4 linked regions of the Homo sapiens genome follow. The protein of the gene in region 4 interacts with the protein of the main gene of each other region in a biochemical or structural test. Each region holds a gene or a part of one and is shown on either strand. Other genes may lie near its edges. The genes, in order: DHX58, OAS3, EIF2AK2 and EIF6.

The links.
Region 1: the proteins of EIF6 (region 4) and DHX58 form a complex in vitro, tested with the Homo sapiens proteins (one study listed by BioGRID).
Region 2: the proteins of EIF6 (region 4) and OAS3 form a complex in vitro, tested with the Homo sapiens proteins (one study listed by BioGRID).
Region 3: the proteins of EIF6 (region 4) and EIF2AK2 form a complex in vitro, tested with the Homo sapiens proteins (one study listed by BioGRID).

Annotation. Positions count from the first base shown.
Region 1 is NC_000017.11:42,102,707-42,109,741, forward strand, and holds part of DHX58 (ATP-dependent RNA helicase DHX58), read right to left. Parts: intron 6,681-7,035; coding exon 6,564-6,680; intron 5,403-6,563; coding exon 5,276-5,402; intron 5,090-5,275; coding exon 4,898-5,089; intron 3,284-4,897; coding exon 3,030-3,283; intron 2,462-3,029; coding exon 2,312-2,461; intron 2,222-2,311; coding exon 2,060-2,221; intron 1,093-2,059; coding exon 902-1,092; intron 1-901.
Region 2 is NC_000012.12:112,933,938-112,941,480, forward strand, and holds the start of OAS3 (2'-5'-oligoadenylate synthase 3), read left to right. Parts: upstream 1-4,536; 5' UTR 4,537-4,593; coding exon 4,594-4,770; intron 4,771-7,543.
Region 3 is NC_000002.12:37,118,950-37,125,984, forward strand, and holds part of EIF2AK2 (interferon-induced, double-stranded RNA-activated protein kinase), read right to left. Parts: intron 3,716-7,035; coding exon 3,557-3,715; intron 1,191-3,556; coding exon 1,010-1,190; intron 1-1,009.
Region 4 is NC_000020.11:35,278,410-35,281,799, forward strand, and holds the end of EIF6 (eukaryotic translation initiation factor 6), read right to left. Parts: intron 2,421-3,390; coding exon 2,245-2,420; intron 1,710-2,244; coding exon 1,533-1,709; intron 1,339-1,532; coding exon 1,157-1,338; intron 798-1,156; coding exon 788-797; 3' UTR 509-787; downstream 1-508. UniProt on the Homo sapiens protein: Binds to the 60S ribosomal subunit and prevents its association with the 40S ribosomal subunit to form the 80S initiation complex in the cytoplasm. Behaves as a stimulatory translation initiation factor downstream insulin/growth factors.

The sequences.
Region 1 (7,035 bases), on a different chromosome or scaffold from region 4:
TCACACCTGACCTTTCAAATCTTCCACGGGCTAGTCTGTCTTTTTCTAAATCTCATTATTCACAGTCCCTTCCACTCAGGTCAACTGGTGTCGCTTTTTTTTTTTTAAAGGCAGAGTCTCACTCTATTGCCCAGGCTGGAGTGCAGTGGTGCGATCTTGGCTTGCCTCCCGGGTTCAAGTGATTCTCATGCCTCAGCCACCCAAGTAGCTGGGATTACAAGCATGGGCCACCACGCCCAGCTAATTTTTGTATTTTTTTTTAGTAGAGAAGGGGTTTCAATATGTTGGCCAGACTGGTCTTGAACTCCTAACCTCAAGTGATCTACCCACCTCCGCCTCCCAAAGTGTTGGAATTACAGGCGTGAGCCACTGCACCTGGCCCTCCATGGTTACCTTCTCATTCGCTCACATTCAAACCAGACCCATTGAGACCTAGCTGAAATGCAACCTCCTCAATTGAGAAAATCTGTGTGAAGATCCTTGGCACAGTGGCCCGGAACACAGAGGGTAACATAATGAATGGATGGAGGATGGGGGAAGGTTACTCTCTAGGAGATAGTGGATGGAGGATGGCCCAGGGATGGCCAAGCTCTCTTGATATCTTCGGAATAGGTAGGACCAGAGGGTCAATGTGTGGTCTTTTGACACTTAGTATCCTGAATTCCAGTTCTTGCTCAACCAGATAGTGGCTGTGGGAACTTGGGCAAGTCACATAGCCTCTCTGAGCCTCTATTTCCTTGCCTGTAAAATGGAGACAGGGATAAAACCTGTCTAACCAGATTATTGTGAAAATGCAAAGTACTTGCTACAATGCTCTTTAGCTTCCCAAAGCTTCAAAGCACTGTCTGGATGGGAAGGATTCCCAGGCCCCCATCCCAGTAGCCCCTTCCACAGGTCTCACGAGAAGTTGGGGTTCACATTGACATGGTGGGTGCCCTCCACCTTCCGCAGGTCGCTGCCATGGCCCACAGCCACCATGCAGTTGATGCAGAGTAGCTGCACGTGCTCCACTGGGAACTGCTGCCGCTGGTTCTCCCGCTGGGCTGCCTGGGCCGCCCGCTTGGTCAAGGCTGCCTGCTGCAGATCCCGGATCTGGGGTGGGAGGAGACACCAGGCATGGCTGGGGCCTAAGAGAACGTTCCTTGGGGGACAAAAGGTTCCCAAAGAACTAAGATCATTTGTACCTGGAAGAGACTTTCCTTAACCCTCCCTGGAGCTTAAAAGAAGCTCTATTGCTGTGATGATGCAGTAACTCATGCCTGTAATCCCAGCATTTTGGGAGGCCAAGGCGGGTGGATCACGAGGTCAGGAGTTCGAGACCAGCCTGGGCAACATGGTGAAACCCCATCTCTACTGAAAATACAAAATTAGCCGGGCATGGTGGCGCATGCCTGTAATCCCAGCTACTCGGGAGGCTGAGGCAAGAGAATTGCTTGAGCCCAGGAGGTGGAGATTGTGCCATGCACTCCAGCCTGGGTGACAGAGTGAGACTCCGTCTCGGGGAAAAAAAAAAAAACAGCTATGGAGAAAAACAGTATGAGTAGTCGGGGGCAACAGTGGGAGGGGTAAGCTTTCCTGCTCAATCTTGAAGGACTTTAGGCAAAGCTGCTTCTGTGAATCTGTCATGGGGCATCATTAACAATTATGCTGGGACAACAGGGAGCACCCTGGACAAGGCAGGATGGTGGTGGCCCTGCCTCAGGGGAACTGATGATATAAGTCCTAGTTCTGGGCTTATCTTCTGCACGTGGACTTATCTTGTCCCCTCTGCCTGGTTCCAGAAAGGCTGTAATGCAGCTCTTCCAGATACATAAAGTATCTCATGGCAAAGATAAATAAAGAGCCTTGGACAAGGCCTGTTCCCAAGGCCTTCTGGAGTCCAGGTACTGCCTTCCCTGGCAGCCCCACCCCGGCCCTTATTTAAACCTTCCCTAGGTGGCCAAAGTTAGCCCCGAGATGTAGAGGGGACAGGGGGACGTATGTGTGCAGTCAGAAACCTGCCAGGGAGGGGCTCCCTCCTCCCCATCCCTCCCACAGGGCATGCAGGCTGCCTGCAGACCTTGGCCTGGTACTCGGCCTGGTCCATTTTCTGCACAGCAGCCACTGCCTGCTCCATCAGCGTCTCCAGCGCCTCGTTGATCAGCTCCCGCTTCAGCTCCCGGCTACCTTCAGTTGCTACAAACGCGTATACACTCTGATCGGCCCGGGCACGGCCCCTGGCCTGGGAAGAGAGACAAGGGGTGTCCTGAGTTGGGCTGGGGCCCCACACAGGATCCTATAAGGGCGGCTGAGTGGAGGAGGATGTGAGTACCTGGACCATGGAGATTTCATTGGTCAAGAGCCCATAACGCACCACCACATTGCAATGTGGGATGTCCAGCCCCTCCTCCGCCACACTCGTGGCCACCAGAAGGTTCAGGGTTCCATCTTGGAACTTCTGGATCACTTCTTGCTGGTCCCTCTGCAGGCGGAGGGCAGGGAGGAGAAAGAGGCTGGTACATGAGGAGGCTCAGACTGACTCCACCTGCCAGAGTAGCCTCTTCTGGTTCAGCCCTCACTCCCAATCTTGGTCCATCTCCCTAGAGTACTTGAATCCCATCTTTATCCCCAGGTACCCCCAGGATCTTGCCCATCTTCCCAGGTAACTGTCCAACCCCTATCTTCCCTAGGGACTCCTAAGGGTCCCTGCCCCTCTAGTCTAGGAAAAACTCTCAAGCCATAGTCTTCTGCAAGGGACCCCAGACCTGATCCTGTGCCCTGAGGAACTGCATCACCCACCTCTTTCCCTACGGACCCCCATGCCCAACCTTCTGCCCCCAAGGACCTCCAGACTGGGAGAGGCTCCAGCACTGGGGAGGTCAGTGTCCGCCCCTCTCCCCTAGCTCCTTGCCCCTCTGCCTGGGGATAGTCAACTTTCTCTTTCCCCAGGGTCTCCCTGCCCCCACCTCTCTGTGCTGAAGACCCTGTTCCCCGCACTTCTCTCCTATGGAATCCCTCCCAGCGCCAGCATCTTTCCCCGAAGCCCACACCTGGGTCATGTGGGTGCTCTGGCTGCTGTTCCCAGCCCCAATCAGTAGCTGGGCCCGGATGTCCACAGTCTGCAGGCCCTGCTGCTGCTGGAGCCAGAGCAGGAGGGAGTGTGCGCTTTGGCGGGTGCGGGTGAAGATGATACCCCGAGGGCTGTTAGAGCTACTGAACTGCCTTTGCAGGATCTTTTCCAGCATCTCCAGTTTTGGATTCTCTGGGCCATGAGTTGCCAAGTGGGCCAGCTCATTCTTGCGGTCTGTCAAAAACCCCAAAATTTAGCTGGGTGTAGTGGCACATGTCTGTAGTCCCAGATACTTGGGAGGCTGAGGGCAGAAGGATCGCTTAAGCCTAGGAGGTCAAGGCTGAAGAGAGCTATGATTGCACCACTGCACTCCAGGCTGTGTAACAGAGTGAGACTCTGTCTGGGAAAAAAAAAAAGAAAGCAAGAAAGCAAGAGAAAGAGAGAGAGAGAAAGAGAGAAGGAAAGAAAGGGAGGGAGGGAAAGAAAGAAAAAAAGGAAAAGAAAGAGAGAGAGAAAGAGAGAAGGAAAGAAGGGAAGGAGGGAAGGAAGGGAGGGAGGGAGGGAAAGAAAGAAAGAGAAAGAAGAAAAGCCCCAGAGGCAGAGGATTCAGATCTTGGAGTGGGGAGGGCACTGGCGGAGGAGGTTCTCACAGCAATAGGACTGTAGGCGTGCAGAAGGTGGGGGGTGGGGGGTGGGGGAAGGATGGAACTCCTGCTCAACTCCCCCACAGCAGCACCAAGAACATATTTAAGGATGCCCTGGCCGGGTGCATTGGCTCACGCCTGTAATCCCAGCACTTTGGGAGGGTGAGGTGAGCGGATCACCTGAGGTCAGGAGTTCGAGACCAGCCTGACAAATATGGTGAAACCCCGTCTCTACTAAAAATACAAAAAAATTAGCTGGGCGTGGTGATGCACACTTGTAGTCCCAGCTACTCGGGAGGCTGAGGCAGGAGAATCACTTGAACCCAGGAGGGGGAGGTTGTAGTGAGCTGGGATGGTGCCATTGCACTCCAGCCTGGGCGACAGAGCGAGACTCCCTCTCAAAAAAACAAAAACAAAAACAAAAAAGGATGCCTCCTACCGAGCCCACTCTCAAGGCCAGCCTCACACCGGGGTCATACAGTACAGAACCTCAGACCAGAACCCTCTTCTCCCCAGTGACCAGGATGACCCTTGAGCTTTTAACTCTGACCTCTGCTACCCAGATCTCTTGAGCCCCAGCCTGTGCTGCGATTTGCAACCTTAAATTTCACCCTCTGACTTTCAGCTTCACTCTCTCAGTCTAAAGGAACCACTCCTAGCTAATCCTTTTAAAAAATCTGGGCCGGGCACAGTGGCTCACACCTGTAATCCCAGCACTTTGGGAGGCAGAGGCAGGAGGATCACTTGAGCCCAGGAGTTAGAGATCAGCCTGGGCAACAAAGCAAGACTCCGCCTCTTCAAAAAAAATTTTTTTTAATTAGCTGGGAGTGGTGGTGCCCACCTGTACGCCTAGCTACTTGGGAAGCTGAAGGGTGAGAATTACTTGAGCCCATTAGGTCGAGGTTGCAGTGAGCTATGATTGCACAACTGTCCTCCAGCCTGGGTGACAGAGCAAGACCCCGACTATTAAAAAAAAAAAAAAAGTCAACAATGTTAATTAATTTTAACAACTAAGCAAAAACCTTCACAAATGAGGAAATAAATCAGTCCTACCCATGGCCTTGGATTTTGGTTAGAAAAATAGGATCTCCACCAGTATCCTCACGGGCACCTTCCCATCCGACCTTGGCGCCTGTGCCCTGGCCTCTGACCTCGCATCCAGGTCCCATCATCCCCGGCCCCGAAGCCCCCTCCCGCCCCTCACCATCGAACAGGGCCAGCAGCCGGCGCTCGGCACACAGGATCTGGGTTTTAGTGACGTGCTCCCTGTGATAGAAATCCTGCAGCGCAGCCAAGGCATCCACGGCGCGGACGGTGTCATGGATGAGCAGCGCGTCATTGTAGCGCCTCAGGTGAAGCGCATACACCCGTTGCTCCTGAAGCCCAGCCAAAGCCGCTGCGGGAAGAGGGCGCAGGGTCTGAGCAGCCCACAGCCCCGCCCCCTGCCCTGCCCCATAGGGCCGTCCCACTCGACTCCACCCCTGGGGTGGATAGGCCCCGCCCCAAAGGCCTCCGCCCCGGCAGGCCCCGCCCCTGACCACTCCCACATCCTCGCCTCCGCCAGAAGGGCTGCCCCTCTCACCAGCCTCACTCAGCTTCACCACCTGCTGCTCATACATTTGCGTCCCAAATTTCCGGCTCAACTCAGGCATCTCCAGGTGGTCATGGATTTGGTCCATGAGCTTCTTCAGCAAGTCCCCAAACGGATCCTGAGCAAGAGGAGAGTTGGAGGGGATTCCCATACACGTTGGAGGATGGGCACCCAGTGGGGGTGCTGACCCCGGCGTGTAGCACACCGCGACTGCCTCACCCATCTGTCTTAGCTGTGGTGTGAGCTCCAGAGGGAGGCCGGCTAGGGTGTGGGGGAGTCCTGCCCTGTCTCACCCGCGATGTGCTCTTACCCTTTGGCCTGGGCACGGTGATGCCTAGTGTAAGGCACATGGACGTGCTTTGGTCAAGGAATAGGCCGAGGCGGACATCCGGGCCAGAGTGACTCAGCGAGTTTGGGGGGCAGGCACGTACTCCACTTGCTATATAACCTGTTTGTGTAAGTTCATACTGGACTCTACTGTCAGTAGAAGGTAAAACTGCCCTGCTGACGCTGTTCACGGAGCTTGGTTCAGCTCGGCACGGCAGGGCACGCTTGCTCGCCCAGAGAGAGAATAATGCTACTAACCCCTGCAAGGGACAGCCGGTCGCCTTGAAGGTGGGCAGTGGGGAGCCAGGAACCCGCTTGTGCCCAGAGGGAAAGAGTTAAGCTGCTGACCCTGACAGAGCTGGCCTTGCCGGCCAGGGAGAGCAGCTGCAGGCGTGGGGGCAGCAGGAGCCACAGGGCCGGAGCAGACAGCCCAGATAAAGGTGGACAGTGTGAGAGAGCCGCTGCTGAATAAAACTACATTTCACCTGCCTATGGCCCCCCAAGGGTTCTTTCAGCTATCTGCTCACTCACTCCCTCCCTCCAGACCACAGCATGGGCTCAAACCTGACCCCAAGTGTAACATTTGGTATAGTTATGGACCTGACACCTAGTCCTTGTCCAGTCCAGTCATGGCAGACACGAGGCCGTGTCCACACTAGAGAGGGCTCAGTAGAGCCTCAGCACAAAGTATCCCTGCTCTCTGGTTTGTAGTGCACTCCCCAGCATGACAGTGATGTGACAGACACCAGTGGTGCCTTCTGAGTCAATCCAAAGAGCGGGCTGTGGGCATGGGCTGTATCTGCCCCATTTCACAGAAAGGAGAAATTGAGGCTTGGATACATAGCAAGTGACCTGAAGTCACAGAGCTAGTGAGGGCAGAGTCAGGGCCCAAGCCTAGGTGTCCTAACTTCACACCGGCTCCCGCTCTCGCCGTGTCCCTGCCCCCGCGTACCTGGCTGCGCCTGTGGCAGAGGTTGTACTGTTTGCAAGGCTGTTGGCTGTGCTCCTGCAGCTGGGGGCAGCAGTTCTGGGGTGACATGATGCACCACGTGTCCAAGTTGGCACAGAGCTGGGGGCAACAGAGGACTTTACTGGAAAGGGAGGGTCTGTGGGGACAATGGTCAAAGATTTGGGGCAGGATGGATCCCAGCTGAGGACAGGAGAATGTGGGCATTCGTCTACTCAAATATTGCTCGCCCTCTCTGTGCCCGTCTTGTTCTAGGCACTGGGGATACAAAGGAACTCAGATTGGAGTTGGAGAGGCAGATAATAAACCAGTAAAAGAATAATAGAACCGGCCAGGCATGGTGGCTCACACCTGTAATCCCAGCACTTTGGGAGGCCAAGGCGGGCGGGTCACCTGAGGTCAGGAGTTTGAGACAGCCTGGCCAACGTGGTGAAACCCCACCTCTACTAAAAATACA
Region 2 (7,543 bases), on a different chromosome or scaffold from region 4:
CCATGGGCCATAGTTTGCCAGTTTCTTCCAACATTTCATTAAGAAAAATTTCCAAGCAAACAGCCACATTGAAAGAATTTTGCAGTGAACACTCATATACTCACCACATAGATTTTACAATTAACGTTTTATTGCACTTGCTTGATTGCATATCTACAATTTCTTCATCCTTCTATCCATCCATGAATCCATCTTATTCTTTTGATGCATCAGAAGATTCTTTTTCTGCCAGGCATGGTGGCTCACACCTGTAATCCCAGCACTTCGGGAAGCCAAGGCCGTTGGATCACCTGAGGTCAGGAGTTCGAGACCACCCTGGCCAACATAGTGAAACCCCGTCTCTACTAAAAATACAAAAATTAGCCAGACATGGTGGCACACACCTGTAATCCCAGCTACTCGGGAGGCTGAGGCAGGAGAATTGCTTAAACCTGGGAGGCAGAAGTTGCAGTGAGCCGAGACCACACTGCTGCACTCCAGCCTGGGCTGTCTCAAAAAAAAAAAAAAAAAAAAAAAAAAAAAGGAAGGAAGGAAGGAAGAGAGAGAGAGAAAGAGAGGAAAGAAAGAAAGAAAGAAAGAAAGAAAGAAAGAAAGAAAGAAAGAGAGAAAGAAAAGAAAAGAAAAGAAAAGAAAGAAAAAGAGAGAAAAAGAGAAAAAGAAAGAAAGAATATTCTTTTTCAAAAAGAAACCAGCAGCAATTTCTTCCCGGGCCAGTACAAGGTGGTGAGTGAGTTGACTAAGCAGACAGGCAAAAAGAGAGAGAGTATCTGTAGGAGGATACTGTCACCTTTTATATATAGGCAATAAGCAATAGTTTTCCAAGGAGAACAGCAGATGATTTGCTACTGTATCAACCAAGAATATATTTGACCGTAGTAAGTAACAGAATGTGTAACAGACATTCTGAGTCATTTTGTTACACCCACAACTGTGGGTGACCTGTCCAGATATGCCTTCTAATTCCAAGCACCCCAAGAAAACCCCTGTGCTTAAGATTTTATCTAGCCATGAATCCAACATTTTCTATTTGCTTATTAATTTTTTGTCCATCTTCTCTCGTTAGAATATAAATTCCATGAGAGCAGAGGCCTTTTCACTTATTCACCACACATGTTCTGTGCTAGACCAGTGGCTACCATAAAGAAAACACTGAATAAATATTTATTTATTTATTTATTTATTTTATTTTTGAGCCAGAGTTTCACTCTTGTCATCCAGCCTAGAGTGCAATGGTGTGATCTTGGCTCACTGCAACCATTGCCTCCTGGGTTCAAGTGATTCTCCTGACTCAGACTCCTGAGTACCTGGGATTACAGGTGCCTGCCACCATACTCAGCTAATTTTTGTATGTTTAGTAGAGACGGGGTTTCACCATGTTGGCCAGGCCAGTCTCGAACTCCTGACCTCAGGTCATCCACCTGCTTTGGCCTCCCAAAGTGCTGGGATTACAGGCGTGAGCCACCGCACCTGGCCTTAATAAATATTTATAAGAATAAGGAAAGGATCTGTTTTCCACATCTCATAAGTTGTCTTTTATACCTTTCTTTTCTATGTTCTGCTTTCCTGTAATCTCGAGTAATTTCCTCCATTCCATCTTCCAGTTTACTGATTTTATCTTCAGGTATATTTATTCAGCCTATCTATGGAGAAGGTTCGGTTTTTCTGTTCATCTTTGGTTTTATTTTGCATTATGTTTTCACTTCCAATGTGATAGTGGTGATTGTTGACTTTCATCACTGTTCTTATTTCATGGATATGATGAATAATCATGAATACAATGAATAATTATAATGGATATAATATCTAATCCCTCTGAGGATATTAATTATATATTTCTAAGACCGTATTAGTCCAATTTGTACTTCTAAAACAGAAAGCCACAGACTGGGAAATTAGTAAAGAACAGAAATTTACTTATCACAGTTCTGGAGGCTGAGAAGTGCAAGACCAAGGCTTCAGCAGGTTAGGACCTGGTCTCTATGCTTCCAAGATGGCGCCTTGAAGAATGTTGTGTCTTTTGGAGGGGAGGAACACTATGTCCTCACATGGCAGAAAAGCAGAAGACAATGAGCCCATTCCTCCAAGCTCTTTTCACAGTGGCCATAATCCACTCACGTGGGCAGAGCCCTCATGACACAAACACCTCCTGTTAGACCCCACTTCCCAACTGCTGCATTGGGGAGTAAGTTTCCAACACATGAATTCTGGGGGACAAATTTAGACCACAGAAGACTCTTTCTCCTTTATTGATTATTTCAGTGTCCTTACATGTGAGTTTTTATGTTCATAGCATTGGATCTCCCAAAATAATTTGGCACCTTTGGATGTGTGCTTTTTGCTCACTGGGGATGTTCTGCTTGTCTCCCTGTGAAGTTGGTACCTTCTTACTGCAGCTGGAGGCAGAGATGAGGAAAGGGGATGTGCCAGGAATGAGTCTTCTGCATACAGGACTTCCTGTTCTTTCCAGATGTGGCCAGGTATGCTGTGTACTTCCCTGCCTCTCTGCCCCACCCTCACTGCTCCCTCCTTAGGCAGGCACCTCTGCTGCCTGTTACTCAACACAGAAAGGTTGGGGCGGGAGACCACATGTCTTTAGAGGCTGCCATTACTATGCCAGCACAACTGACAACCATGAGAGTTAACCTAGGGTCCCTTCTTTTCCTTCAATCCACTGCCTGGAGCCTGCAGCTCCTCAGAGCCTTTCCACTCTGCATAGGTACCCCCTCCTTTATGTGTTTTGGCTGCAATTTCCTCCTTCATCCAGTCTCATATCTCTGACAGGGATCTCAGATTCCAGTTTACCTGGGACACCTCTGGTTAGGACCCAGCAACATTATTAAAGTTTTTCTATCGCTTTCCTGCCACCTCTAGAGGCCTGGGATGGACGTTGAAGGCTTATGCATATGTTCAGTCCACCATCATGACCCAATATTGACCCTTCTGCGTTCCATCTTCTAAAAATGCCTCAAATGTCCCGCCCCCTTGACTCCACTTTTTCTCAGTTTCCAACCCTGTTGATTTCCATTATGCTTTTAATATATCTTTGCTGCTATTTTAATAGAATTTTGAGCATGTGTTCAATCCACTATCTTGAATGGAAAGTTTCTAAAGTGGCCTGTGACTCAGGAAGAAGACTGTGATTAATGGGCGAGAATGAAAATCATTGCTCAATCCCTTGACTTAAATCCCCACCACAACACCTGACCTACAAAACCTGCCCATACTTGAATATTCCAAGTGATGCAGCATTCACTACTCAAAATATTAGCTGGTGTACATATTACAGACCCAGCATCTCTCCCTCTAGTTGACCATGACCTCTGAAATTCACACTCTGATCCTATCTATTTCCTTTCAGTTACCGTGCAGATGTCAGGAAGCACTTGTTAAGACTATTACCTGAAGTGTACTCAGAGGCAGAGTAAATGCTGGGTCCCGGAGCAGACAGGAGAGAGGACCTGGGAGTTTTTTAGTAAGATGGGGAGGAGGAGATAGGCTATGGCTTGGACCAGGCCTGGAAGAGAGCTCAGGTGTGCAGTCTCTAGGAACCCGGGTGGAGAAGCAGCAGGAAATAAGCAGAAAAAGGAGACAGGCCATGAAGATAGAAGCGCAATGGTCCTGGATTCAAATCTCCACTCTGCAGCTTATAGCTTACAGTCCGCTTAGCTTTGTGCCCATTCCAAGAGGATTTCCCTATTGTAGCTTTACAATGTTTTAATATGTAGTATTGTTGTGCAAGGTACCATCCTAAACTGACTGACTTTCCTTCCTCCTTCTCCTCCAAAATAATTTTTAATTCTTGCAGACAGACTTTAGATCGTGTGTTTGAAGTTTTTAAAGATGGAATTTTTATTGGAACTGCATTACACGTATAAATTATTTAGGAAGAGTTGGCTTCTGAAGAGGGCAGCTCTGTGGGCTTGGGCTGGGTTTGAATCCAGCCAGACAACTTTCCAGCTGTGTTACCTTGGACAGTTACCTAGTTCCTCTGTACCTTGACTTCCTCATCTGTCAAATGGGTGATGATAATAGCACCTACACCATGGTCGTTGGGAGGAGTCAGTGAGAGTCTCCAAGTGTGCTTTATTATCGTTGGTGGTGGTAGTGGTGTTTAGAACGCATCCCTCAGTCAGACAGCGAGGTAGGACTTCTCCGTTTATTAAATCCTGACCTTTTTTTTCCATGTAAAACCTGCACGTTTCTGAAATGCTCAGAGTACGTTACTCAGTATGTACCCATATGTTCTGTGGGTATACTTTGTTAGGTTGTGATTAGTTCGTTGGAGCTGGTGGTTGCAGGGACGGCTGGAAGCAAGGAGATGAAGGAGAGGAAGTCGTAGCTGGGAAGGGGACCAGGAAGTGGGTGTCAGGTCCAAGAGCTGCTAGAAAGAAACGAAACTGAAAGCAGGGAATTTCCCAAGTTTGGGGAAGACAGGAACTGCAGCGCCCCTCCCCGTTTCACGCCACGCGCGGGACCGAGGACCTAGGACCTGGCCAGCTGGGCGTGGTTCGGAGAGCCGGGCGGGAAAACGAAACCAGAAATCCGAAGGCCGCGCCAGAGCCCTGCTTCCCCTTGCACCTGCGCCGGGCGGCCATGGACTTGTACAGCACCCCGGCCGCTGCGCTGGACAGGTTCGTGGCCAGAAGGCTGCAGCCGCGGAAGGAGTTCGTAGAGAAGGCGCGGCGCGCTCTGGGCGCCCTGGCCGCTGCCCTGAGGGAGCGCGGGGGCCGCCTCGGTGCTGCTGCCCCGCGGGTGCTGAAAACTGTCAAGGTGAGGTCCCACCTCGGGGTCTTTATGTGTCCAAAGGGGAGTCCTGGGAGGACGCTTAAGCCTCACATAGGCTTACGGTGGGGGTGGCTTTATCCGCTTGTGCACCTCATTCATTTCTTTAACAAATACTTCCAATGTGCCAGCCCCGTGCTAACTCCCCCGAACATACGAGCCAGGTAGGTACTCTTAAGCCCGCTTGACAGATAGAGAAAATGAGGCACAGAGAGGTACAGTGACGTGTCCGATCCTGTAAGAGGCCCAGCCAGGATTCAAATCCAAGTAGCCTGATTCCTGCATCTCTACTCTCAGAGGCTGCTTCTTATCCATTCATTCACTCATTCACTCATTCTCCCAGTCATTCAAACAGACTGTGGGCCTCACACTATGCCAGACCTTAAGGTTACAGAAGTAATAACACTCCGCGTAACAGCCAGAGTAGCCCAATTTATTGAGACATTATCAAATAACAATGAAAATTATCTCATTAAATGAGTATTACCTCATTTCATCCCCACGTTCAGTGAGGCAGGTATTATTGTACCTGTTTTATGGATAGGGAAACTGAGGCTAGACGCTAAATTACTACTCTGAGTCACATCTTTTTTTTTTTTTTTTTTTTTTTTTTTTTTTGAGACAGGGTCTCGCTCTGTCACCCAGGCTGGAGTGCAGTAGCATGATCTTGGCTCACAGCAACCTCCGCCTCCTGGGCTCAAGTTATTCTCACACCTCAGCCTCCCAAGTAGCTGGCACTACAGGTGCACACTACCATGCCTGGCTAATTATTTGCATTTTTTGTAGAGATAGAGTTTTGCCGTGTTGCCCAGGCTGGCCTGGAACTCCTGGGCTCAAGTGATCCACTTGCCTTGGCCTTTCAAAGTGCTGGGATTACAGGTGTGAGCCACCATGCCCAGGTAATTTTTGCATTTTTTGTAGAGACGGGATTTCACCATGTTGCCCAGGCTCCGGGTCACTTTTTGTCACTTAAATACAGCCACACTGCCACTGTGATCCCAGGACACTCGCAGATTCAGGGAGGAGACAAGTCATGAGCTACCTTATCCTCAGGGTAGATTTGGGGGTGCCAGGAGTGGATTGATGGAGGGAACCTGGGTGTGCTAGAGGAGGTTGTCAGGAGAGGGAGTGAAAACGCAGAGTAGAAATGGCCTCAGAGCACCTAGTGGTTTCCTGGGGCTGACTCTCAGCTTGGGAGGTGGGGAAGGAGGAGACACTTGTCGCCTAGGAGGTGTGAAGTCCCGTTTCTACCTTGGAGATGGACAGGAGGGATTTCTGTGCAGCAAGGGAAAGCCCTGGCATCCTTAGCTTCCCTGGAAAGGGGTGGGAGGGGGTTCTGGAGCACAATCTCCCTGTGCTTTCATTGTCTCCTTTGTAAAGTGAGCACGGTGCAATCTCCCTGTGCTTTCGTTTCCTCTTTTGTAAAGTGGTACCTTCCTTCTGGGGCTGTGAGGAAGGTTCAATGAGATGAGAGTGTGCAAAACGTGCAGGAAGTGCCCAGCCTGTAATATTCCCTGTTCCCACTTTGTCAGCAGCCCCCAGATGGTGGGAGCTGGTAGTAAAAGGACTGGCATAATCATCGGGATAAGTAGGGGGTCCCAGTTTGAGGCAAGCCTTGCTCCTGGAGGGCTCCATCCTGGTTCTTGCTGTTTACTGGCTGTGTAACTCATTTCACCATCTGAGCCTCACTCCCCATATCTGCAGCCACATGTAACTACATCACAGTTGTTTTGTGTTGGAAGTGAGATTAGAGACGTCAGATCCCAGACACAGAACAGTGGCTCTGACAATGTTTAGGAGTTTCTTTTCCAAATCCTCAGGTTGGAAGCTTTGCCGAAAGAAACACTAATCACACAGGTCTCAGAAATTGAGTCATACCACAGTTCTGTACCCATTCTGAGCAAAGATTGCAAATGTGTGTTCTGCAAAGCAGAATTTGTTTTACCTGCGGTCTTGAGTTTTTAAAAAGTTAGTTGCCAACATTTAAAAATCATGGATATAGGCCTGGCATGGTGGTTCATGCCTGTAATCCCAGCACTTTGGGAGGCCAACGAGGGCAGATCACTTGAGGTCAGGAATTCGAGACCAGTCTGGCCAACATGGTGAAACCCCATCTCTACTAAAAATACAAAAATTAGCCAGGCATGGTGGCGCACACCTGTAGTCCCAGCTACTCAGGAGGCTCAGGTGGGAAAATCACTTGAACTCATGAGATGGAGGTTGCAGTGAGCTGAGATGGTGCCACTGCACTCCAGCCTAGGCAACAGAGTAAGTCTCTGTCTCAAAACTAAAAATAAAAATAAAATTACAAGTATGGATTTAGCCCAGCACGGTGGTGCATGCCTATAGTCTCAGACACTTGGGAGGCTGAGGCAAGAAGATCACTCGAGCCCAGGAATTCCAAGCTGCAGTGAGCTACAATCGTGTCTGTGAATAGCCACTGCACTCCAGCCTGGGCAACATAGCAAGACCCCATCTCTTTAAAAAAATGTAAAAACTAGCCAGGCATGGTAGCGTGTGCCTGTAGTCTCAACTACTTGAGAGGCTGAGGCAGGAGGATCACTCGAGCCCAGGAGTTCAAGGCCGCAGTGAGCTATGTGTTCCAGCCTGGGTGACAGAACAAGACCCTGTTTCTATGGAAAAAAAATCATGAGTTTACATGTTAAAATTGCTTCTCTTGAAATCTCGAGCCTGGCTACCCTGGGCCCACATTCCCGCGTGGCTTCAATGCCTACAGCCATGTGGCCACAGTCTCTCCCCA
Region 3 (7,035 bases), on a different chromosome or scaffold from region 4:
AGTTCCAGAGTGATCAGGAAAGGCTCAGTAAAGGAATTACAACCAAAGGGGGCAGGCAGAAGAGTGTCCCATGAGAGAGAAGAACATGAGCAAAGGTCCAGGGACAGGATTCAGGACGGCCAGCTTGTGACAGGCTTAGGCAAGTCACAGGGAATAGGGAATGGAGGAAAGGCTGTGAAGGGCTATTCTGTCTCTCACCTTCTGTCATTTTAATGAGAAGTAAAAAATAGGGAAACTCCTTGTCCGGACCATAAAAGCCAGAGGAAAATGAAAATACTAAGGGATGATACACTTTCCCAGTCCGGGATTACCGCAATTTTCCAATCATGGGGTTGAAATGCTTAACCAAGACAGTATTAGACTCTGGACCCAGTAGCTGTGACAGCCCTCGCGAGTAATGACTGAGAGATTAGGGAACCATATTCCTAAAGCAACAGTCAACAGAGTCCCCTCTGCCTCTCAAATAAAGCTGAGTCACTTAGAGGAGGCAGGAGGAACAGGGGCAGAGCAGCCAGTTGGCTGTGCCAGTCACAGTAATTATTTGCATGGAAATGTTCAGATACCATTTTCTCATAACTATCAATCAACCACTATTCTAAAACTAGAGAAAAAAATATATATCTATCTATCTTATTTTATATATATATATAATTTTTTTTTTTGAGACAAGTCTCACTCTTCACCTAGGCTGGAGTGCAGTGGCACAATCTTGGCTCACTGCAACCTCCACCTCCCAGGTTCAAGCGAATCTCCTGCCTCAGCCTCCCGAGTAGCTGGGATTACAGGCGCACGCCACCATGCCCAGCTAATTTTTGTATTTTTAGTAGAGACACGGTTTCACCATGTTGGCCAGACTGGTTTCGAACTCATGACCTCAGATGATCTGCCTGCCTCAGCCTCCCAAAGTGTTGAGATTATAGGCGTGAGCCACTGTGCCCAGCTGAGAAGATATATTTTAAAATTACTATATTATATATATATCAATTAATAAAGTACATTTTCCACTTACCTTAAGATCTCTATGAATTAATTTTTTTGAATGTATATAATCCACCCCTTTTGTTATTTGTTCAAAGAGTTCCAAAGCCAAAACTTTGTCTAGTTTCTCGCCTCTTCTTTTTTCAATCCATTGTTCCAAGGTCCCTTTATCACAGAATTCCATTTGGATGAAAAGGCACTTAGTCTTTGACCTGGGTATAAAATTCACAGTATGTTAAAAGTAACAATAAATATAAATTTATAAAAAATTTTTTATAACTTTTTAAAGTTTTTCATAACTTTTTAAAAGCTTATACCTTATCTTCTTAAGAACCCCAAAAACACTTTGGGAGGCCGAGGCGGGCGGATCACGAGGTCAGGAGATCGAGACCACGGTGAAACCCCGTCTCTACTAAAAATACAAAAAATTAGCCAGGCGTGGTGGCGGGCGCCTGTAGTCCCAGCTACTCCGGGGAGGCTGAGGCAAGAGAATGGCGTGAACCCGGTAGGCGGAGCTTGCAGTGAGCCGAGATCACGCCACTGCACTCCAGCCTGGGTGACAGAGCGAGATTCCGTCTCACAAAAAAAAAAAAAAAAAGAAAAAAAAAGAACCCCAAAACATGTCACAAAATAGAAATCTAAATATAATAAACAAATTTGAATCAAAATATAATAGGCCATTTTTTATTTCAATCATAAGTTCCCGGATGTCCAGAGCTTTATTTGTTTAGCTAATTTATAAAATATGAGCTGGGCTGGGCACGGTGGCTCACGCCTATAATCCTAGCACCTTGGGAGGCCGAGACTGGCGGATTGCTTGAGCTCAGGAGTTTGAGACCAGCCTGGGCAGCATGGCGAAACCCCATCTCTACTAAAAACACAAAAATTAGCTGGGTGTGGTGGCGCGGCACCTGTAGTCTCAGCTACTCGGGAGGATGAGGCACGAGAATCATTTGAACCCAGAAGGCAGAGATTGCAGTAAGCTGAGATCACGCCATTGTGCTCCCGCATGAGCGATAGAGTAAGACTCTGTCTCAAAAAAAAAAAAAGAAGAGGCCGGGCGCGGTGGCTCACGCATGTAATCCCAGCACTTTGGGAGGCCGAGGCGGGTGGATCACGAGGTCAGGAGATCAAGACCATCCTGGCTAACACGGTGAAATCCCGTCTCTACTAAAAATACAAAAAATTAGCCGGGCGTGGTGGCGGGCGCCTGTAGTCCCAGCTACTCAGGAGACTGAGGCAGGAGAATACTGTGAATCCGGGAGGCAGAGCTTGCAGTGAGCCAAGATTGCACCACTGCACTCCAGCCTGTGCGACAGTGCGAGACACCGTCTCAAAAAAAAAAAAAAAAAAAAAAACGAGAAGAAAAAAAAAATGAGCCACCCATTCTTCATTGCTGAAGATCTGCAATCACCATTGCTAACAGATAGAAATAGGAACATGAATACAATGCAGGAAACTAAATTTCATTATTATATAAAGTAACTTTGAAACCTTTTAATTCACCATTGATCTACTAAGCATGAAAGGCACCTAGAGATGAGAAAATCAGTTAGACACTATATCCTTGCCGTCACGGGGATAATAGTCTAATAGGAGAGAGTAAAGGGAAAGCAAACCTAAAACAATAGGGAAGGTACTCTAAGAGAAGTGCCAACAAATTACTAAGATACATAAATTGGAGGCTTGATTTTTTTTTTTTTTTTTTTTGCTAACCACGTTTTATTTTTTTTCTGAATTAAGTTAGCCTCAATATTCATTTATATTCTTTGTATATATGTCAGCTTGAAAACAGGAAGAGGTAGCCAAGAATTTGCTGAAAGCTGAAGTCCTGTATGCTGACGGTCAATAACTCCTGAACTGATGATAATGTTCTCACTTACACGACATGGAGATGGAGGTGGGGCAGGAGAAAATGAATGAATGGGACCCCATTGGCCTCAGGATTTTAGTGAGAGGACTGTCCCCATAATAGGTTGGGTGACTTTCAAAGACAGATGCCAGCTCTTTAGGATCTCCAGTTGTTTGGCAATGGCTTAACTGACATAAAACATGAGGGTGCCCCCATCTCAGCTTGTGGTCTTAAAAATATTTTCACTCCCCACCACCCCAGCATAAGTGGTATAGTTACATTCCAAAGAGACCCTCTGACGGCACCACACCAATCACAGCCTAAGAGAGGGACAGAAAAGTGTTGGTAGCTGAGGAGGGAGCCCCCAGATGCAGCATCTATATGTTAAAACTCTCTTCACAAGACTACACTTAAACAGCCTGCGCTGAAGCCGGCACGTGAACAAGGCTCTCCATGAAACAATGGAGTCAGGAAAGCTGAACCTGAGATTTTGCAGACAGCTGAGGATGTAACAGAGGGTTGTGAGAGCAAGTCTGCAGCAAGAGGAGGAGCAAGGAAGAGATTTTCACTTTCTCCTTACCTTCGGAATGGAGAGATAACAGTGTCTCTCAGAGGGAATTGTGATAATTAATCGTGATGATTAATAGCCTTATCCAGTGGCCCATACATAGTAAATAACAATTTCCTTCCATCCTATTATGGCTATGAGAATTTATTTTTAGTTACCTTGAACTATTTTTGCTGTTCTCAGGATCATAATCACTGCTCTCAAGAGAATCATCACTGGTCTCAGGATCATAATCAAATCCATCCCAACAGCCATTGTAGTGAACAATATTTACATGATCAAGTTTTGCCAATGCTTTTACTTCACGCTCCGCCTTCCTAGTTAAAAGGAACAGGGAACATGGCAGTGTCAGTGTACATCCCTCATAACAACCACAAAACACCTCATGTAATAGACAACTGTCTACATTCCCTTATTAAACCATTGCTGTGGTTCTCACATAGTTTTAGAATGGAAGCCAGGACATTCAAAAGGAAAAAGTGAACATACTGAAAAAAAACATAGCAGTTCTCACTCTCAAGATAAAATAAAAGGCAGTGGCCGGGCGCGGTGGCTCAGGCCTGTAATCCCAGCACTTTGGGAGGCGAAGGTGGGCGGATCACGAGGTCAGGAGTTCAAGACCAGCCTGACCAACATGGTGAAACCCCATCTCTACTAAAAATACAAAAAATTTAGCTGGGCACAGTGGCGCATGTCTGTAATCCCAGCTACTTGGGAGGCTGAGGCAGGAGAATCGCTTGAATCCAGGAGGCGGAGGTTGCAGTGAGCCAAGATTGCACCACTGCACTCCAGCCTGGGCAAAAGAGCAAGACTCTGTCTCAAAAAATAAATAAATAAAAGGCAGCGACTTAATGCCAAGCATCAGACAATTTAAAAATCATCTGTAGTACTCTTGAAATGCCAGTGATGTCATTTTAATTAATTTATTTATTTTATTGAGACAGAGTCTTGCTCTGTCACCCAGGTTGGAGTGCAGTGGCACAATCTTGGCTCATTGCAGCCTCAACCTTCTAGCCTCAAACAATTCTCCCACCTCAGTCTCCTGAGTAGCTGGGACCACAGGAGCACACCACCACACCCATCTAATTTTTTCTATTTTCTGTAGAGATGGGGTTTTGCCACGCTGCCCATGCTGGTCTCAAACTCCTGGGATCTAGCAATCCACCTGCCTCAGCCTCCCAAAGTGCTGGGATTGCAAGCATGAGCCAATGGACCCAGCCAGTGCAATTTTTCATAGCTAAATCATACATTATGTTTTGCTTAGATTTGTGTTAAAATCTTTGTATTTCACAAGCAAACCACATTTAGGCAGCAAGGCTAGGTAACCCAGGCAGTGTGAAGTACCTAATTCAGGATTTTCAATGTGTGGCAAATATACACAAAGAGGATAACTTATGCAGAGAAGGTGAAATGGTGGAAGGCTTTACAGGGATGTGTTGCCAAGACCTAAGAAAATTCCATGCTAAGTGCAGTAAATAAATTGGAGATTTCAAAGATGAGGAAGAATAATCATTTTACAATTTTATTTTTTAATGCAAGAAGTTTTAAAGTATATGACACAAATTTGCAAAAATAAAAAAAATTACTGATACTTTGACAATCCTAAAATAATGTTATTTTAGATTCTTCCTTTTTTTTTTGAGACAGGGTCTCACTCTGTCACCCAGGCTGGAGTGCAGTGGCAATGTTGGCTCACTGCAACCTCCACCCCTAGGGCTCAAGCGATCCTCCTACCTCAGCCTCCCTAGTAGCTAGGACCACAGGCACACACCACCACACTTGGCTAGTTTTTATATTTTTTGTAGAGACAGGGTTTCTCCATGTTGCCCAGGTTGGTCTCGCACTCCTGACCTCAAGTGATCCACCAGCCTTGGCCTCTCAAAGTGGTAGGATTACAGGCCTGAGCCACTGCACCCAGCCAGTCATTTTTTTTGAGAAGAGTCTTGCTTTGTCGCCCAGGCTGGAGTGCAATGGCGCGATCTTGGCTCACTGCAACCTCCGCCTCCTGGGTTCAAGCGATTCTCCTGCCTCAGCCTCCCAAGTAGCTGGGACTACAGGCGTACGCTGCCATGCCCAGCTAATTTTTGTATTTTTAGTAGAGACAGAGTTTCACCATGTTGGCCAGATGGCCTCAGTCTCTTGACCTCGTGATCTGCCTGTCTTGGCCTCCCAAAGTGCTGGGATTACAGGCGTGAGCCACCATGCCTGGCCCAGCCAGTCATTTTTAATGGCTGCAAAACAGCCATCGATCAGGGGACAGAACAAAATATATATACTCATTTCTTTACTGCTGGATATTTTGTTTGTTCTAACTTTTTACTGTTAATGAATGACACTGTGATTTATATCTTCTTGGATATAAATCCATAATTTGAATAACATTCTTTTTTTTTTTTTGGAGATAGGGTCTCACTCTGTCACCCAGGCTGTAGTGCAGTGGTGTGACCATGGCTCACTGCAGCCTCCACCTACTGGGCTCAAATGGTCCTCCCACCTCAGCTTCTGAAGTAGCTGAGACTACAGGCGTGGCTACCACACCGGCCTAATTACTGTATTTTTTGTAGAGGTGGAGTTTTGCCATGTTGCCCCAGGCTAGTCTCAAACTCCTGGGCTCAAGTGATCCACTCACCTCAGCCTCCCTAAATAGTATTCTTTTTATTATTTTTATTTTTATTTTTTTTTGAGAGGGAGTTTCGCTTTTGTTGCCCAGGCTGGAGTGCAATGGCATGATCTGGGCTCACCACAAGCTCCGCCTCCCGGGTTCAAGCAATTCTTCTGACTCAGCCTCTCGAGAAGCTGAGATTACAGGCATGCGCCATCACACCCAGCTAATTTTGTATTTTCAGTAGAGAGGGGTTTCTCCATGTTGGTGAGGCTGGTCTCGAACTCCTGACCTCAGGTGATCCGCCTGCCACGGCCTCCCAAAGTGCTGGGATTACAGGCGTGAGCCACCACACCCAGTCCCTAAATAATATTCTTAGAACTCATCCCCTAGAATGACAAATTACGGGGTAGGGCCTATTTGGCCTCCCCTTGAATCTAAGCTGGCTTCAGTGACTTGTTTAACCAATATAACTTGATGGTAGTGACGTTCTGGAACTCCTCAGATTAGGTCAAAAGAAGCCTTGCCACTCACTCCTGATCTTTTGGATGACTTGTTCTGGGGACAATCCTTCTTGAAACCCAGCCACCAAGTTGTAAGAAGCCCAATCCCCATAGGGAGGCCATGTGGAGGTATTCTGATTGACAGTCCCAGCTGAACTTCCAGCCCACAGCCGGTGTCAACTGCTAGCCAGCTTGGATATCCAGCCTAAGATAGGCTGTAGTCAAGGTTTCAGATGACTACTGACTGCAAATCCCTCTGAGACCCCAAGTGAGAATTGTCCAGATGAGCACAATCAACCCATGGAACCATTAGAGACAACAATAAATTGCTGTTTTTAAGCACTGCATTTTGGAGCAGTGCCTTATACAATAACAGACAACCAGAGAACAATTACCATCTAGCTTTTATCTTAGACAAAATCACTTCACATCTCTGGATCTTAGTTTCCTCATCTATAAAATAAGAAGGTAAGACTAGAACATCTCAAAGATCACCTATTTTGTGGGTAATGATAGGTTCTATCTGGTGCCA
Region 4 (3,390 bases):
TGCCTTTCAAGGCCAGAGAAGACCGGCGCAGAAGTCGGGTGAAAACTGTGAGAACTAGACCGGGCGCCGTGGCTCACGCCTGTAATCCCAACACTTTGGGAGGCCGAGGCGGTGGGTCGCTTGAGTTCAGGAGTATAAACCAGCCTGGGCAACACAGTGACTTCGTTTCTACAAAAAAATAAACGAGGCGAGAGGATCGCTTGAGCCCAACAGGTCAAGGCTACAGTGAGCCATCCTTGCGTCACAACACTCCAGCCTGGGTGACAGAGGGAGACACTGCCTCAAAAAGAAAAAAGAAAAAAGGAGAACTGTAGTGGAGAGTGTTTCTTGCCCCAGGATGAAGCCTCACATCCTGATGGTAGAGGAGAAGGGAATGGCGTGTGTGGAGGTGGTGAACTGGGTTGGGTGTGTGTTGTGTTCATCCCACCCTATCTTCCCAGAATGCTGGAACAACTGGAGAGTGCAGGGATTGTACACAGGCTGAGGGCCCCAAACATCACATTCAGAATGGCCCGGAGGGAACTGCACTTTAATGGGGTGGCACAGGACAGCAGAACCCTCAGCCAGCAGCCACAGGGCCTGCCAGCCAGCACAACAGAGCAGGTTTTTGCAGTAATGATAGATCCAGGCGATAAGCACAGGTGGAAAAGGGTTGGGTGCCCAGCCCCTCAGTCCCAGTGAGCTCTCTGCCACCTCCCTGCCAGCATCCGGTACAGATTGGGCGGAATGTGGAGAAGGTTGGCCACAGTCCAGAGCCAGGAGCCCATGGAACAACTTGGAAGGTGACTCAGGTGAGGCTGAAGAGAAAGGAAAGCGCACGGTCAGTAGCTGTTTCACAGAGCCCACCTCACTCTCAAGTGAGGTGCCTGCCTCAGCCCTCATCCCGGGACCAGCTCTGACAAGCTGCTCAAGCAGCTACTGCTCTAGTATCCTAGCCCTGAAAAACCACAAAGATGAGGATTAGCAGATGCTCAAGAAATATTTTTTGAATATGCTGGCTCTTATCTGCTCAGCAGTGTACAGATATGCTCTCACACTCGAGAAGCTACCAGAACAAACTGGTAGGCTCCCATTCTAGATGACATCTTTTCCCCATACTCTCAAAATGCAAGTTAACCCCCAACCCTGAGCAGAAGAAAGGAGAGGCCCCAGGTACCTGTCAATGAGGGAATCCCGCATGCTGGTGGCAATGGTGCTAGGCTGGGCTTCATTCAGCTTGAAGACACTCTCCACCACTGACAGCTCTGTGCTGGTTGTGTCCAGGCCACAGAAGGCACACCAGTCATTCACCACCATCCCAGCAGCAATCACCTCACTGCCTCGGTTCACAGTCCCCGCCTGCCAAGGGATGGGCTCAATGTGAGTCACGGCACCAAATTCTCTCCCTCCTCAATGAAGACTCTCCCCAAACCCTGCTCCTCCCTGACCTGCAGCCCCAGTCCCAAACTGTGGCAGGTAATGACCCAGACTCCCAAACACTAGGCAAAAGGATCTGCCTCGGGAGACGGGGTTCAGAGGACAGGAATGCTTACCACAAGGGGGACTTGAAGAAGAGAGGACAGCTCATCCTGGTCTTCAATTGAAGTCTTGGGATGCACCAGCCCTCCCTGATTGCTGAAGACACAGTAGCTTCCTACTAGCACCTGGTCGGCCACTGTCTGTCTGAAGACTTCCACCTTGAGCACATCTGCCAGAATTTCTTCTGTCTCCTGTCAATCAAAGATATTGTGTTCAGGGCTCAGAACTTACAGCCCCAGAACCAAGGTTCTCCATGCCCAGAAGCATCCAGGCCTTGGCTCCCTGAGCCCCTCATTTCTCCTCTGTACCTCATATGAAAGCCTCACCCAGAGAAAGGAGGAAGTACAGCTTAGAGCAGAGTCAAGGGCAGCTGTGAAGCCCCTAATATTCATGCATGCCCTGAACAGCTGGAGGCTGGTCTCAATATCACTTCTTTCCCCTCTCACCCACAGTCAAAAGTTCAACAGTCAATCACCTATCCTGGCCCAGGATGCAGGACTGGATGGTTCAATCTCCCCAATCATGAAGGATTCATACCCTCCCCAGCTTCTTTCTGACACTTGATAAGGCCTCTGTTATCACTATTCCAATGAGTACCTGAAACTCAAGAGCCCATATAGAAAAACCACAGGAGAGACCCCTAATTGCTGCCTGTTGGGAAAGAACAGTGGCTAACCACTGACTAGGATGGCCCTGTGACTCTTGGGTCAAGTTGGGCTGCCTCACCCTGTCCAAGTCTGGGTGGACCAAGGCCACGTAGTCATTGCAGGTGGTGACATTGCCCAAGGCTGAGAGCCGCTCCTCCACCCGCCTAATCTGCACTGTGTCTGGGAGGCTGTTGCGAATGTGTTGCAGCTCCTGGTCGGTGGTATTGTTGGGTACCAGGAGACCGTGCCTGTTCCCTGGAGAAACCCAAATTAGAGGGTGAATACACAAGATGCCTGCTGAGCCCTAGGGGCTGAGGATACCACTCAGCCCAGCCCAATCAGCTTTCCCAGGAAAGCTTTAGGCCCAGAGCCCAGCCCTCCAACCCACTGATCTGGAAAACACCCAGGGCAGGCCAGAGACCACCCAGGAATCCCAATAAATCCTGCCTACTTCACCATCACCAACTGGGAGGGAAGCTGAGCTCTTGGCATTAGCTGTATATTTTGCTACTTAAAAACTGAGCTGCCGGGCGTGTTGGCTCACGCCTGTAATCCCAGCACTTTGGGAGGCTGAGGTGGGCAGATCACAAGGTCAGGAGATCGAGATCGAGATCATCCTGGCTAACACGGTGAAACCCCGTCTCTACTAAAAATACAAAAAATTAGCCAGGCGTGGTGGCGGGCGCCTGTAGTCCCAGCTACTCGGGAGGCTGAGGCAGGAGAATGGCGTGAACCCGGGAGGCGGAGCTTGCAGTGAGCCGAGATCGCGCCACTGCACTCCAACCTGGGTGACAGAGCGAAACTCCGTCTCCAAAAAAAAAAAACAAAAAAACAAAAAAAACTGAGCTAACACTACACACATAGCAGAATGGCTAGATTATTATTTTTTAAGGCAGAGTCTCACTCTGTCACCCAGGCTGGAGCGCAGTGGTGCGATCTCAGCTCACTGCAACTTCTGCATCCTGGGTTCAGGTGATTCTCCTGCTTCGGCCTCCTGAGTAGCTGGAATTACAAGTGCGTGCCACCACACCTGGCTAACTTTTTGTGATTTTGTAGAGATGGGGTCTCACTATGTTGGCCAGGCTGGTCTCGAACTCCTAACCTCAGGTGATCCGCCCACCTCGACCTCCCAAAGTGCTACGATTACAGGTGTGAGCCACTGCCCCCAGCCAGAATGACTAAAATTTTTACAAGTCATCAATTCCAAGTGTTGGCAAAGATATAT